Regions from separate parts of the Homo sapiens genome. Here region 1 is linked to region 2. Evidence: fine-mapped QTL for protein levels in blood plasma. Region 2 holds a variant in brackets. A gene starts in the other region. All regions are shown on their reverse strands.

Region 1 (2,905 bases), not on the chromosome of region 2:
CCAAATCCAGGCCCCTATTTGGCACTCCCTGGTGGAGGCGCGCCAGCAGATGTGGACCCCTTTTCTGAGGCCAGGCTGCTGGGGTCAGAGTGAGGCAAGAGCACCTCCCCCTCCCTAGAGCCTTAGTTCAAGAGGCCAGAAGACCCAGGGAGAAGCCGGCGTTTTGGGAGAAGGGGAGCTGCAGAGCTCCCCACCCAAGCAGGTCTGATTTGATTCTTCCCTCAGCTATGGACCCACAATCAATAGGGCTGGGGAAGACATGGGGTGGGGGAAGATCAGCGCTGCCGGGATCCTTTCAATCATCAGGAACAGCAACAGGTTTGCAGGGTCAGGCTGGGGACCCTCGCCCATTAACTCTTTCTTCTCCCTGTTTCTTTCTCTTAGGTGAGGGGAAACTGAGTTCCAGGGTAGGCTCCAGAGTGAAGAGGGAAGAAACATGATTCTCAAGGCCCAGGTCTGGACAAGTGTGAACACCTTGGGCCTGCGAATTCAGCCCCCTCCTTCCTTTCTCTGGTCAAAGGCTAGACTTGCAGGAGCTTGCGTTTGAAGGGACAGCCCAGAAGGCATCGTCTGCACTCCCCATACAGGTACTTCTGGGTCTGTGGGACTGGCGCAGGGTTCTTCTCCCAAAGCTGCCAGCACTGAGGCTGAGGCAGTGTCAGGCCGGCGGCAGCGGCAGTGGTGCAATCGTTCTGGGAAGCGATAGAGGCCGGCCTGAATTCTCTGTGGCAAGGGAGGGGAGCCCAAGTGGGAGGCCCCTTGGGGACACCGAGGACCAGGTCCGCTACTGCTCCTCCCCCAGGAGGTCCCCTAGGGGCTACATTGGCTGGCAGGGGCTGAGCAGCGGTGAGCCTGGCTGGCTTCGACCCGGGGCGACTCCGGGCATCCGGGACAGCTTCTCCTCGCTGCCACCTCGGCCAGTCAGACCCCGAGACACCTGTCACTACCCCCTCAGCCTTCCCAAGCCAGGAGCCTGGGAGTCCGGCTCTGGCCTACCTCCGGCAGCGCTCCTAGGCGCAGCTCCCGGGCTGGCGGCGCCGGGGCCCGCCCCCTAGGGCTGCGGCGCGCGGGGCGGGGGCTGGGGGCTGCGCGGGGCGGGGCGGGCCCGGGCGCTCCGGGCCCCCTCCCCCGCCCCCCTGACGTCAGCCCCCGGCAGCCTCGAGCTGCTCACTTGGCTCTCGCCCTCCGGCCGGGAAGCATGGGGCTTCCCAGGCTGGTCTGCGCCTTCTTGCTCGCCGCCTGCTGCTGCTGTCCTCGCGTCGCGGGTGAGTTCGCTCGCAGGGGGGCCGCGCCCCGGCTAGGGGTCTGCGGTGGAGCGTGCCAGGGAGCAGAGCCAGCGGCGCGGCGGGGTCGGGGCGTTGCGTCTGGGAGGACGAGCCTCCTCCCTGGGTCCCCGATCCCCGGGCGCCTTGCGCGCGAGCAACTCTTCTTTGCAGCCAGTTTGCAGCCGGGATTCTAGAGTATCCCGGGAGCAGCACTCGGAAGGCGGGGAGGAGGCTGCTTCTGGGAACGAGAAGGGGTGGAGCTCAGCCTTTCGGGGTGCTGGGGGGTGGGTGGTCCCTGAGGTGCTCACTCTGGGGGCCCGCAATTGAAGCCGGGCAGGAGGCGCAGCTGGGGCGCATCCTCAAAGCCTGAATTCCGCGCCCGCCTGTTGCTGGAAAAGGCAGCTTCCTTCGCTGGAGGGGGTGCGCCGACCCACCCCTTCCCCCTTCTGCCTGGGCATCACGCCAGGCTGGAGGTGAGCGAGAGCGGGAGGTTCGGCGGCTCCCGCCCGAGCTGGGCGTTGGCAGGGGTTGCGGGGCGGTGTGGGTCGCCTCGCGCCTCCCCGAGTGATGGGATCATAGGGGACAGAGATGAGGGATGGAGGATTCCCATACTGGAAGCGCCCGCTGGCTTATTTTGGGGACCACATTCAGGTGGGAAGTGCGCCCGGGCACCTCGGAGCGTTTCTCCGGATCCGCCTGGTAGCAGGGCGCTCTCGGGTCCACGCTGCCCTTGTATGGCCCGCAGCGGTGTCGCGTGTTTCTCTTGGCTCCCATTCCGCCGTCCCAGCCGCTGTCCGGCTGGGGAAGGGGAGGGCTAGGCAATACCCAGCTCGCTGGCCTCATGCCCAGTGCCAACCATGTCCCTGGGGTATTCCAGGCTACTGCCTCCCAGGCTGACTTTATTTCTGGGGAAAGGGCTAAATCGGGCTCCACAGTTGCAGCCGGTCCAGCTCCACCCTGCCCTGCTCTTCTAGCTCTGGGAGGAGTCAGGGGTCTGAGGCTCTGGGTTGGAGACCCCACCTTCCACCTGCCCTCCTTGTCCGAGAGCCAAGGTAACAACCCAGGCATCCCAGAGCCCAGGCAGATGGTGTCGAGTGACATCACCTCCTCACAGGGCTGGCAGCACGCTGGCACCACTGACGTCACTCCTGCCCACTGCCTGGCCCTTGCCCTGACCCCTGGGGGAGACTCTGACCTCTCCATCCTTACCAGCTACCTAGGGTGGGGTCCGCGGGTGTGTGCGGAGTGTTCATGGAGGTGCTGCTGAGGGAGCATGAGACCGGAACTTCCGCCAGAGTTAGCCCGCTGGGGAGTGAGGGCAGGGATTTTGGAGGGCAGAGGATAGAGCAGTGGTGTCTTCCCCTGGCGGTGGTGACACAAAAGGGCCTGTGTGCCCCAGCCTGGCACATGCTTTGCATTCCCACACTCTGAGCTCACCCGGAGAGGAGGGGGCCTGGAAGGAAAGGGGCCTTCCTCTTGGCCCCGAGCCTAGGTTGCCCCTTTCTGCCCCTCTACCAGCCTCAGCTGGAGCTGTTCGGTGCTCAGTCTCTGCTCAATCTCTGCTTGGCTCCAAGGACCTGGGATCTCCTGGACGGGGAGAGGGCTGGCCCAGGTGGGGCGCGGGTCGGGGTGGGGGTAGA
Region 2 (2,905 bases):
GTTTCACCATGTTGCCCAGGCTGGTCTCAAACTCCTGACCTCAGGTGATCTGCCCACCTCAGCCTCCCAAAGCGCTGGGACTACTGGCATGAGCCCCCACACCCAGCCTAAATTTAAATTTGATTCTGAAGTTTCTTTCTTGGAGTTTCATTCTTGGCACACCAGACTTACCATTCTCAGATCCTTGGTTCCTGGCAAGTTTGAATGAACACAACAGACCGTGTCTATGCTGGTCATCAAGACAGCTCCTGAGGGCTCAGCCATGGTTGGCAGCCTACCTGCATGACTGACTGACTCCGATACTTTGGTAGAGCACTTTGAAGATATAAAAGTGGTTGCAAAGGCTCTGTAAATGTGGACTCCTGTTTGTGATTCATGCTCCTTTGAGGTATCATGTACTTCCATGTTTTACATTTATTAAAAAACAAGAAAAGGGGACATGCTCTTTAAACTTATTCTTGGACTGATCTAGTGATAAAGTCACCTATCGGCTAAATGTGCATGCAAATGAACAGGTAGGTGTGGGTTATGGAGTCTCTAATCAATAGTGGAATTACAGTCATGTGCTACATAATAACATTTCTGGTCAAAGATGAGCCACATATATAACAGCGATTCCATAAGATTATAATCCTGTACTTTCACTGTACCTTTTCCATGTTTAGATACACAAATACCATGTGTTACAACTGCCTACAGCATTCAGTGCAGTAACATGCTGTACAGGTTTGTAGCCTAGGAGCAATAGGCTCTACCTATGCCATATAGCCTAGGTATGTAGTGACTACACCATGTAGGGTTGTCTAAGTACACTCTATGATGTTTGCACAACAATGACATTGCCTAAGGATGCATTTCTCAGAACATATCCTCATTGTTAAGAGATGCACGACTGTACATGAATTTGGAAAAATAGTCCAAAGTGAACAAATGCACCCAACAAAAGGCTAGTTGAAATGATATTAAATTTTATAAGTTTAATATAGGCTTCTCTTTTTTTTAGACAGAGCCTCACTCGGTTGCCCAGACTGGAGTGCAGTGGCAGAATCTCAGTTCACTGCAACCTCTGCCCACGGGTTCAAGAGAGCTTCCTGCCTCAGCCTCCCGAGTAGCTGAGATTACAGGTGTGTGCCACCATGCCCAGCTAGTTTTTGTATTTTTAGTAGAGATGGGGTTTCACCATGTTGCC[C/T]GTGCTGGTCTCAAACTCCTGACCTCAAATGATCTGCCTGCCTCGGCCTCTCAAAGTGCTGCGATTACAGGCGTGAGCCACCGTGCCCAGCCTAAGATAGGCTTCTGATATGGTTTGAATGTTTGTCCCTTCCATATCTCATGTTGAAATGTGATTCCCAATGTTGGAGGTGGGACCTGGTGGGAGGTGACTGGATTTTGGAGGTGGATCCATCACAAGTGGCTTAGCACCATTCCCTTGGTGATAAGTGAGTTATTGCTTGTGTTCACTAGAGATTGGGTTAAGAGTGTGGCAGCTCCCCACCCATACTCTTGCTCTCAATTTCATCAAGTGACCTGCTGCTTCCACTCTGCTTTCGCCATGAGTAAAAGCTCCCCGAGACCTCACCAGAAAACTGAGCAGATGCTGGGGCCATGCTTCCTATACAGCCTGCAGAATCGTGAGCCAATTAAACCTCTTTTCTTTATAAATCATCCGGCCTCAGGTATTTCTTTATAGGAACACAAGAACCTAATACAGCTTCTTCTTAAAACAGAAAAGGATACATTCAGAAAGCATTATTTAAATCACTGGGATCTGAGGTAACTTGATAACTTATTTAATGACCTTGGCAATAGTGTCAATAAGCAAGTATTTTGTAAATTCACAAAATTGGTTCTACCTTCTTCTGTTGGTTATTGAAATTTTAACTTAAAGATTTGATTTTTGAAAGAAACAAAGAAATTAGGCCATTAGTTCTTATTCAGCTTCCTAATTTTTCCCTTAATTCTGAAGTGAAGAAAAATGGATCCTTCCATGAAAATTCTACCTTTCTTCTAACCTCTCTTCACTAAGATTTAGGCTAATGATGTTGGCTAAAGTGCTACTTTGCCAAAGTCTCCTATCTATCTCTTTCCCTCAGTCTTTGGAAGGCATGATGTTCAGTCTTTTTTTATTAATCCTAAGAGCCATCTAATTGCTGGCTCAAATTTGCACCCATAAATCTAATTTGTTTTTACCGGAATGAAGATTAAAATTTGTTGAGTAGGCCTAGATCAGCTTTCCTTCCACTGTTATCATTTCCACATACTTCTGATATTGTCTATCCCAACTGCTCCTTTTCTTATTCTTATTTCAGAGTTCTGGTGTGGAGGTTGGGGAAATGAAATTAACATTAGTCTCTTGGTATCCGTGGAGAACTGAACCCAACACCTCCTCAGATACCCGTATCTATGGATGATCAAGTCCCCTATACAAAATGGTGTAGTATTTGCATGTAACCTATGTATATCCTCCTGTATACTTTAATTAATCTCTAGATTACTTATAATAACCAATACAATGTAAATGCTATGTAAATGATTATTCTGCATTTTTATATTTCAATGCTCTACACAGAGAAACTTCTCTAGTAACAAACTATGATCCCCAGAAATGGTCCCTGAAAGTATAGTCTCCTGTTGTTGTTGTTTGTAGAGATGTGGTCTTGCCATGTTACCCAGGCTGATCTAAAACTCCTGAGCACAAGCAATCCTCCCACCTTGGCCTCTCAAAGTTCTGGGATTACAGGCATAAGCCAGTGAGCCCAGCCTGTATTTTGTTTTTAATCTGTGTTCTGTTTTATTGTTTTTGTTTTGAGATGGGGTCTCGCTGTTGCCTAGGCTGGAGTGCAGTGGCACGATCACAGCTCACTGCCACCTCAACCCCCTAAGTAGCTGGGACCATGGGCACATGCCA

Direction of the effects. Positions count from the first base shown, and alleles are read on the strand shown. Strength reflects both the effect of a copy and how common the allele is.
With allele C in place of T in region 2, the plasma level of the protein whose gene starts at base 1,170 in region 1 is lower (weak association).

The links. A credible set is the group of variants that fine-mapping cannot tell apart. PIP is the posterior inclusion probability: the model's chance that the variant is causal. The UK Biobank Pharma Proteomics Project read protein levels with antibody pairs (Olink). The fine-mapping took linkage between variants from a reference panel, not from the people measured, so its PIPs are less certain.
Region 1: MCAM starts here. The variant in region 2 is the best candidate, but not a certain one, in a credible set for the plasma level of the MCAM protein (UK Biobank, PIP 0.61).

Annotation. Positions count from the first base shown.
Region 1 is chr11:119,315,395-119,318,299 of GRCh38, reverse strand. MCAM (melanoma cell adhesion molecule) reads left to right here and starts at 1,170. Exons shown (of 16, transcript NM_006500.3): 1 at 1,170-1,265. The coding sequence starts at 1,199. RefSeq lists a silencer at 832-891 and an enhancer at 2,484-2,905.
Region 2 is chr6:111,196,381-111,199,285 of GRCh38, reverse strand. All of the region lies in intron 3 of SLC16A10 (solute carrier family 16 member 10), which reads right to left. It overlaps LOC124901377 (a long non-coding RNA gene), which reads left to right and starts at 928. Exons shown (of 2, transcript XR_007059707.1): 1 at 928-1,124. The variant C/T (reference allele first, on the strand shown) is at 1,190.